2 linked regions of the Homo sapiens genome follow. The protein of the gene in region 1 interacts with the protein of each later gene in a biochemical or structural test. Each region holds a gene or a part of one and is shown in the gene's direction. Other genes may lie near its edges.

Region 1 (5,641 bases):
ATTAGGAAAAGAAAAATTATTAAATAGATTTTTAGCAACTGAAAATGTTCATTCCATAGAGGTTATTTGGCTTATGTTTTTAACCCATTATCTTTTCTAGTGCTGGTACTTAGAAAGCAGTCATAAAATCGAATCATCTACATATTAAAATTATGTTCCAGGAATAAAAAAGAGGAAGACAGAATTAGTTGTGGTTCCCATTCATCTTGTTTGCTTTTATTTACCATCAGTTTTTTCCTCCTTCTTGCTCCAGATTGTATAGCTTGCTTGCTTGCTTGCTTGCTTTCTTTCTTTCTTTCTTTCTTTCTTTCTTTCTTTCTTTCTTTCTTTCTTTCTTTCTTTCTTTTTCTTTCTTTCTTACTTTTTCTTTCTTTTCTTTTTCTTTCTTTTGTTTTTGTTCCATCAAAGACACTTTTATAATCTTGTGACAGGTATGGACCCCTCCCTAGAATAATGCACATTATGCCATTCCAACACACACAAATTTAAAAACACCTTTAAGAAGTTCACAAATCCCCAAAGACAATTCATATTACATGAAAATGCAGTATTTCTTAAAACTTTGGAGTTTTCTGATAATATAAAATGATTAATTATAAAATCATTTTACTTATAAGTAAGGAACTAACAGTGGATATTGTAGCACCCACATAGTCATTTATTCATTGGTATTCTAGAACTCCAAGCAACTTGGTATAATGGAAAAAACTGCTTGCCTGAAACCAGGTGACCTAGGTTCTAGACTCAACCCCAATAATAATTAACTGTACAATATTACGCTTGACATTTTTCTGTAACATCTGTTGCTTTTATTGCCGAATGCAGTAAGTGAAACATAATAAGAAAATCAGATGCAAGTTATTTTTTATTGGATTGTGGGGTGTCTATATTTACTACTTTTATTCCAAAATTCCTAATGACATTTCCCAGAATGATTAGTTTTTATAACACTATTGTTTATTATAAAGATAAATCACACTCACTGCTTAAAATTTCATTAAATATAGAAAATTGCAAGGAAGAAAAAGAAAATATTACCTATTATTTCCCCCAAGGTACTTTTAAAATGTAATTCAATCATTAATTCAATCAACAAATATCTATTGAGTACCCAGTATGCATCAGCAAAGAGACAGACAAGAAGTTCATGTATATACATGTTTATATGTCTAGATATGTTTCTATACATACATGTAGTTTTACAAAATTGTGATCACACTGTTCATGCTGTTTTGTAACATGCTTCTCCCTCATTCATGAGATGCATTGTTAAAACATGTTTTTTTTAATAATCATGCATTACTTTGTATTCACATATTTAACAAATATTATTAAGTCCCTACTGTGTGTAATGCAAGTAATGGCAATCTATCCATGAGCAAAAGAGTATGGTTCTTACTATATGAAATTTTTCATCTGTATATAGGCTGTACTGGCCAATTATATCTTGTTGGATATTTAGATAGATTAGTTTTCCACTATTATAAATAATTGTTGGATATTTAGATTTATAATAGTTTTCCACTATTATAAATAATATTTCATCTAGGACCTTTTTTATATATGTTAGTATACATTTTTGTTTATTTCCTTATGGTAGATTCTTAAAGTTTATTTTCTAGGTTCTAAAAAAAATTTTATTACTTACAAGTTGTGAGATGATAATCCAATTACTTTATCTCCTTAAAATGTTGTCTTCTCAATTGTAAAATAGAAATAATAATAGTTGGGTATTTTGAGGATTCTTTAAAATATTTAGCGAAATCTCATGGAATGCTAGTGATTATTTTTGACATTTTGCTCTTGAGGAATATGGTATTCATTTATGAGCAATATAAAAGAGTAGAGTTTTCTATGTCAATACTGGGTGCCATCATCAAACAGAGCAAATGACAACAAATCCAACAACTTGGATAATTGATATACGAAAATAGTATCTTGTTTAAATTTACATTTCTTTGTTGAACAAAGTTGAGCAATTTTCATAGTGGCCACTTATATGTCTATGTTTGTGAATTGTCTCTTTCAATGTGATTTAAAAAATTTTTCTCTTTCAATTTCAAATATGATAGATATTAACGGATATAACTTACATAATCATAGCACTTTTGGGGTCCTCAGTAATTTTGAAGAATATTAAGAGTCTTAACAATATAGATGAAATTTTGAACTGGAAGTAGAAATTCTATAAACAATGTTTTTCTCATTTTTGGAGGGTTATTTTTAGTGTTTCCTGAAACCTTTCCCTTAAAAATGGGTGAGAATACATAGAAAAATGAGAGCAAATTATTTTTTATTCTCATAGACTAATAGTTTACAAATGATGGGAAACCTGGAGGGTTCAGAGATGATGGCCAAAACCCAGCACCAGAGACATCCTGGCCTGAATCATGTAAAGAAGATATTGTTAGGACTAAGGGTGGCGTGATGACTGTTCAAGTTTTGTAAGGCTGGGTGCAGTGGCTTACACCTGTAATCCCAACACTTTGGCAGGCTTGAGCCCAAGAGTTTGAGACCAGCCTGGTCAACATAGTGAGATTAATTAAAATCTTATTAAAAATTTTGAAAAAATCAGCTGGATATGGTGGCATGCACCTGTAATCCAGCAATTTGGGAGGCTGAGGCAGGGGGATCATTTGAACACAGGAGTTTGAGGCTGCAGTGAGCTTTGACCACACACCGCACTCATGCCTGGGTGATAGAGCAAGATTTTGTTTCTTATTAAAAAGAAAAGTTTTGTGAGGAAAATAATATTATTGGTTGTGAACAACCAATTTAGAGAAAATGAATTTCAGTTCTGGCCAACTCTTTGTCTTCTACCCCTTGACTATTAGGGCAATAAATAGTTGGGGGAACCAAAAGGTTGGTTCTGGAGTTCTTTCCAAAGAAGACAGTAAATAGAGCAGAGGTTATTCTGGTCCTCTGATACCATTACCTGCCTGTTAATAAAGGATGCATTACATGTATTTGCTACTTTTGCTATGTGATTCTAAGTTTTTTGATTCTTTTTGTGATTCTTAGTGCAAATCTTACAACACACCTTGAAAATACAGTTTACCTTTCCTTATACAAAAAATGAAATAAGCATAAACAACTCAATGCTCACCATAAGCAGATTTGTAAAGCTACCCTACCAGTCTAATCACTTATTAAATGAATTCAAATGAGCTTAGAGAAACTCAGCAGACACCTGACGCTGAAAGTTATCAGTGTCAGAGTTTAGCCATCACTCTCCATTAAAGATAATAGACCAAATTGGCTCTCATTTTTCTTCCCACTCCTTTTTTGGCACATGCAGTTGTGAATCAACTGCTTCCTTTTCCCCAATCTTCCTCTTCATTTGCTTGACTTCTGGAGTCTTCAGGAAAAAAATCGGTATTTTAGGTAACAGTGTGCTTTGAATTAGTAAACAAATGTCATTAATATGTATTCTTCTACAGTACAGAAAACTCATGTATTTATGATACTCAGCTTATACTTGCTTAGGTTTTTGTTTTGTTATTTAATTTACAAGCTGTTTTCTCACTATCTAGTTTGAAAAAAAAATCAGAGGCCCAGTATTTTTTTATTTTCACAGGCTTTGTGGTTGATAAAGGGATTGGTTATGAACTTTGTTTATTTCCACAAAACTGTGTAAGTTAGCAGTACAGGTATGACTATCCACATTTTACAGATGTGAAAAAGAGCTATTGAAAAGTCAAACGTTTTTTTCTTTTTTTTAATGTCTGCCTTATGATTCCATTTTGATGTATTTAAATGTTTAAATATATTGGTTTATATTTTTAGTTTTAATGTGTATTCTTTGAGGTTGTCACACTCTTTCTATTGGAGTTAACATCAGAAAAATTACTGGAGAAGGCCCAGGAAGTCCACTCTCCTGGTGCGTGTTTCCATAATAACTCAATCGTTCTGCCCTTATAACTTGATTACTGATTGACGTAATAGGGGAGGTTGTGCAATTTTGGAACTACATAGTACTTTGTACAGTAGTATGTATACTACTTTAAGAAAATAAAATATATTACATTTTATCTAAAAATACAAAATAAACACATTTCATGAGTTATGTAAAAAGTGCTGATTTTGCCAAATGTTTTGCTTTCAGGTTGGTCGTAGAGAATTTTCTTAGAATTTTCTAAGTATAACCTACAGAACCTATGGCTCTTTCTGGCTCTTATTAAACCTGGCAGTTGGCATAAAGCATTTGTATCAAAATGGTTACTCTGACCTTGGATTTATCATTTGGACAAAATAATTATTATTTTACCTTTCCAAATAATTCAGTAGCTTATGATAAAGCAGATACTCCTTCTCAGGGGTAAAACCCAACATTAGTTATACGCTTGACTTAGTATACATACTATGATGTGGTAATAAATAATGCATACTAGGTCAGGTTTTACTGCTGGATACAACTGTGCCACTAGAAACATTAGGTCAGCACATGGCTTCTGAATTTCAGTCAGTAAATTGACACACTTCTTATTTGCCCCATACTTTTATGCCCACAGTTTTGACAGGATAAGCAAGTTAAATGCAGTACACAGGCAGTAAACTGGGATGTTCACCCCTTATGGAAAAAAGTATTTTTGCAGAATTCTTGGATCTATAAGAAGAGACAGTGTCTGCCTAGGATAGTCTCGAGGCAGATAAATGGTGTTTTAAGTTTTGAAACAAAAAGGCAATTCATTTTGTGGACTTTTTAAAACATATATTTGATGCAATATTATGAAAGTATTGAAAAAAGTAATTTGGAGCAATTATGTAAGAATTTATTGAAAAGCAATCAGGGAAAAGTGTCTAAAGATGCACACAGTTATGGGATCATTCTGTATAGACTGCTGCGTCTATCATTATGATTTCTTAATATCCATTAGCCACTGTTGTGTCTACCACAAACCTCAAACAGGTTATCAACTTTCTTTTCATTCAACTGCCATGAAGAAGAGGTGGATGAATTTTAAATTTGCTGACGTCATGAACTTAGATCTCAAAGAGAGAACACTAGGAAATTTCTGTAGTTCACTTTCAATGATCAATGGTAATACATGTTCAGATAATAACTTTAAAATACTGTTATATCCCTGGTTCTTAGAAGACAATGCCACTAACCCATTTTAGAAAGATTTGTCACAGCAGCGATTCTAATTTAAAAGAGGCTTCTTGGTAAATTAAAGATTTAATTGCAAATCTGTTGGATGCTTACTTATAATCTATTACTTGGTACTTAATTTTTGAGCTGGTGACAACCAGAGATTTACATTTTATATATATAAAGCTTCACAATATTTACATGCATTTTTTCCCTCTCACCTTTATTACTTTCTGTAATGATGCCTTTGTTGTCAATGAAAAGCAATAAAAGAAAGAATCAAATTTGTGACACTCATTCACTGTTTGCAGAAATTGTTACAATCTGTTTAAAATATGTTTTAGGTTGACAAATTTGATTTGGTTGATCAATATATTATGTATTAATAAGTATTAATAAGCTATTTATATGAATTAATACCCCAGTATTAATATATAGCCTATGCATTAATATAATTAATAATCAATATGAATTAATTCAGGTAAATCATTAGTTATTCAATACACCATATATTACATATAATATACCTTAATAATAATATTGATTGTT
Region 2 (3,691 bases), on another chromosome or scaffold:
AAGGCTAAAGGATGATTTAGCTTATACATGAGAAAACTTCTTATAAGTTGTTTTATATGGCCATAGAAGGTTAAACAAGAGGAAAATATTTAAATTGAATCAGGAGAAATTACTATAAGCCATAAGAGAAATGTGCTGTAATGCTCTAGGTATCTGGGGCAGGTGTGAACTCTTCGTCTCCTAAGGACAATATAGCAACTTCCTCATCTAGGTGACTTAAAGGTGTACCTGTGTAAAGGCAGGAGACTGAGCTGAGGATCTAATGAGCTCCCTGCAAGGTCTAGGATCCCATGGACATGTTCACGATTCACCACCGCCCCCGCACAGTGTCCTTGAGTTCCTTGGTGTCAGCCATATCCAAGTCAAGCACTACCAGACAATGAGTCAGCAACATTTGACCCCTAATCTATGCAAGGCACTGGGCCAGGGGCTGAGGGAGGTAACAAGACTATGTATGGTTCTATCCTTGGGGAGTTTTTGGTCTACTTGAGGAGAAAGGATATATATATTTACAATAACACAAGATGCATGATTAGTGCCAAATGGGTGTGGCACAGCCAATGTGGCTATACGTATCCAAGGGAGGAAAGGTCATCATGAGCTGGGATGGCCAAGGAAGTCTCCTGAAGAAGGTGGGGGCTAAGCTAGGCCCTAAGAAAGGAGGAGGATTACCAACAAGAAGGCCACTCCAGGTGGGAGACAGTGGGCCAGATCACTGCTGAGTGGAAGAGGGAGAGAGGTGAGCAATATTTGGAAAGAAAGACTGAGACCACACGGTGGAGGATCACGAGGGCCAGGCCAAGGCATTTGTCAGTAGTTCCAAAACAGAGGCCTAACCCAGTCCCTTGTGCACGGAAGCAGCTCCATAGTATTAGTGCATTAAATTCAAGCAGGAAGAAAGAGGTGCTTAGTTTTGACACCACTGGCCTGTACCTCTTCGTCTATCCCTGGAGTTCACAAGTAGACTTCTGTGCTACTTACCCTTCTTATCTCACTGTCACCCCCCTTTTTTTTTTAGAGACAGAGTCTTGCTCTGCTGCCCAGGCTGGAGTGCAGTGGTGCAATCATAGCTCACTGTAACCTCCAACTCCTGGGCTGAAGTGATCCTGCCTCAGCCTCCCCAGTAGCTAGGACTATAGGCACTTACCACCACATCTGGCAAATAAAAAAAATTTTTTTGTAGAGATGGGGTCTTGCTATGTTGCCCAGGCTCTTGTCTCACTTTCAGCATGAAGTGAAATGGTTTAAGCACCACCACACTCTGAGCCACAGCCCAAGCAAGATAAGTTCTAAGCTTTAGACCCTAGAGATGTACATGAGACGTCATTAACCTCTACATCCTTCATTTTCCTAGGATTATCCCTCTTTGGGGCTGATGACTGAGAAGCTATCCCAGAAAAACATCAATTTGATCTTTGCAGTGACTGAAAATGTAGTCAATCTCTATCAGGTGACTGTGCCTTCGGGCTTCCTGGAGTGGGCCCTGTGATGGTGGGTGCCCCAGGTAGCCAGCCTGTGCTAGCATTGGATACAGTCCCCAATCAGGAAAGAGTCTCCCCTAATCCACTCCCCAGGAGCTAAAGATTGCACTCTGGGCCTTTTTCCTGCAATCTTGAACTTACTAGGTATGTGTTGGTGTTTGTGGTGGTGGAGGGGAGGTGGTGAGGGGTGTGAGAGGTTTCCTCTACTTTTGCTCAGGGCTGAAAAACTGCTAGATATATTCCTGGCAGTGACAATTGAAATATCCCGTACCTTCCTCCAATCTTCATCTCAGGACTCTCAGTGGGATTTGGGGAGGGCTTTTGGAGACCACCAGCTTCCTTTGGTAAGCTCTGGACATCTTTGTTTTCCTTTCTAGAACTATAGTGAGCTCATCCCAGGGACCACAGTTGGGGTTCTGTCCATGGATTCCAGCAATGTCCTCCAGCTCATTGTTGATGCTTATGGGGTAAGTGTCTTGTGCTGGGAATAGTCCCGCGGAGAGTCCACCTCATTTGGCTTACACAGCAGGGCTCAGATTTGTGAGTCCCAGTTGCCAGTCTACCACACGGTCTTACTGCCTTCTCCGTGTGCTCCCAGAGCCCAGGCAATGGCCCGCTCTAGAAGGGATGCAGCCTTCTGAGAAGGAAGGAAGGAAGGAAGGAAGAGAGAAAGAAGGAAAGAAGATGGGGATGGGGATGGTGATTAGATGGAGAAGGAGCAGAGCCCTGGAATTGTGGGGGCAGAGTGAGGGAAAACTGGGCTCCAATAACAGGGAAAAGAGAGAGCTGAGACATGGGGAAGGTGAGGTTGATGAAACATTAGGTAGAAAATGCCACTTTCCAAGGTGACCAGTATTGGCACTCCCCTTTTGCAACATCTGTGAGGCCTGCAGGAGGGTGTAGCTGGTACATTTTACCCAGACTCACCTAGACGCAAGTGGAGATGGAAAGAGGGAGCAGGTTCCTGCGCAGGAAACAGAGTCCTAGGGGTGCTCCGGCAGCTTCCAGGTCAAACCTTGGCCTCTGGCACTGCTGGGGTGAGTCCAGAGCTACTTGCCAGATTTGGCTTGGGATGGAACTGGCTCTTGCCATTTCCCGTTTCCTTTCAGTTCAATTTCTTGTCTTCTTGTGCCCCTTTCTGCTCAGAAAATCCGTTCTAAAGTAGAGCTGGAAGTGCGTGACCTCCCTGAAGAGTTGTCTCTATCCTTCAATGCCACCTGCCTCAACAATGAGGTCATCCCTGGCCTCAAGTCTTGTATGGGACTCAAGATTGGAGACACGGTGAGGTGGGCTGGGCAGGGCCTTTGTCCTGGAGCATCTGTGGGCACCCAACCCCCTTTCTTCCTTTTGTAGTGACTAAAAATGGCCCCCTTCCACCAGAAAAAAAATATGGGCAAGAAAAATACGTTTCCTGAAAGTCATTCTAAGTTAGATGTAATGGATCCACCAATCTTTTCCTCTGAGGCTTCTGTTGCGTAAGCCATTTCTGTTACGTGAACTTCACTCTCAGGAATTTGAAAAACTTACAATTTGGTTACCTTTGTTTGTGTATGCACAGTTGATTGCAAAGGAAAATATTTCTTTACCTTCAGTCCCTCACCAGTCGCCAGCCTTTCCAAGGTAATTAATACCTTTCTTTTGTAAAACGACACAAGAAAGTAAAATCTAAAATGTAAAACACTCCAGTCTCTCCACGACTTTCCTTATTGGTCGTTTCTCCTCCGCTTCTGCCTAAGGGGAGAGGGGTTGGTGGGAGGGGAGGAAGGAGGGGAAGAAAATAGATCTTTGGATACGCTGATCCTTTCTATTGACCTATCTGTCTCTCAGGCACTTGTGCAAACATCCCATGTTAGAAATATTGTCCTGAAACATGCTTTATTGCATAAGCTATGAAATGTGTGGGAACTGAAGTAGATCCTGAGCTTATGATTGACCACCATGTGGGATTGTGTGGTGCAAAATAGTGCTTTGTGCATCTTGCTGATAATTATAATCAGGCCAAAGCAGGGTGTTTATATGATCACAGGTTCTGTTCAGTTTGAGCTGGTCTATTTCATATGTGGAGTGAAAAAACAGCCTTTTATTATTTATTGACTGTAAACCATGTCTCTGCATCCAGCTAGATATGTCACAACGATACTATTCCCGTGCTTGTGTTTTTGCTTTGCAGACCTTCATATAGGGAAGGCTGAGGAACTCCAGATTGCAAA

The links. The genes of interacting proteins can lie anywhere in the genome.
Region 2: the proteins of PLA2G4A (region 1) and ITGB3 form a complex in vitro, tested with the Homo sapiens proteins (one study listed by BioGRID).

The regions. Positions count from the first base shown.
Region 1 is NC_000001.11:186,830,676-186,836,316, forward strand, and holds part of PLA2G4A (cytosolic phospholipase A2), read left to right. Parts: intron 1-5,641. UniProt on the Homo sapiens protein: Has primarily calcium-dependent phospholipase and lysophospholipase activities, with a major role in membrane lipid remodeling and biosynthesis of lipid mediators of the inflammatory response.
Region 2 is NC_000017.11:47,288,327-47,292,017, forward strand, and holds part of ITGB3 (integrin beta-3 precursor), read left to right. Parts: intron 1-1,354; coding exon 1,355-1,450; intron 1,451-1,858; coding exon 1,859-1,948; intron 1,949-2,627; coding exon 2,628-2,762; intron 2,763-3,691. UniProt on the Homo sapiens protein: Integrin alpha-V/beta-3 (ITGAV:ITGB3) is a receptor for cytotactin, fibronectin, laminin, matrix metalloproteinase-2, osteopontin, osteomodulin, prothrombin, thrombospondin, vitronectin and von Willebrand factor.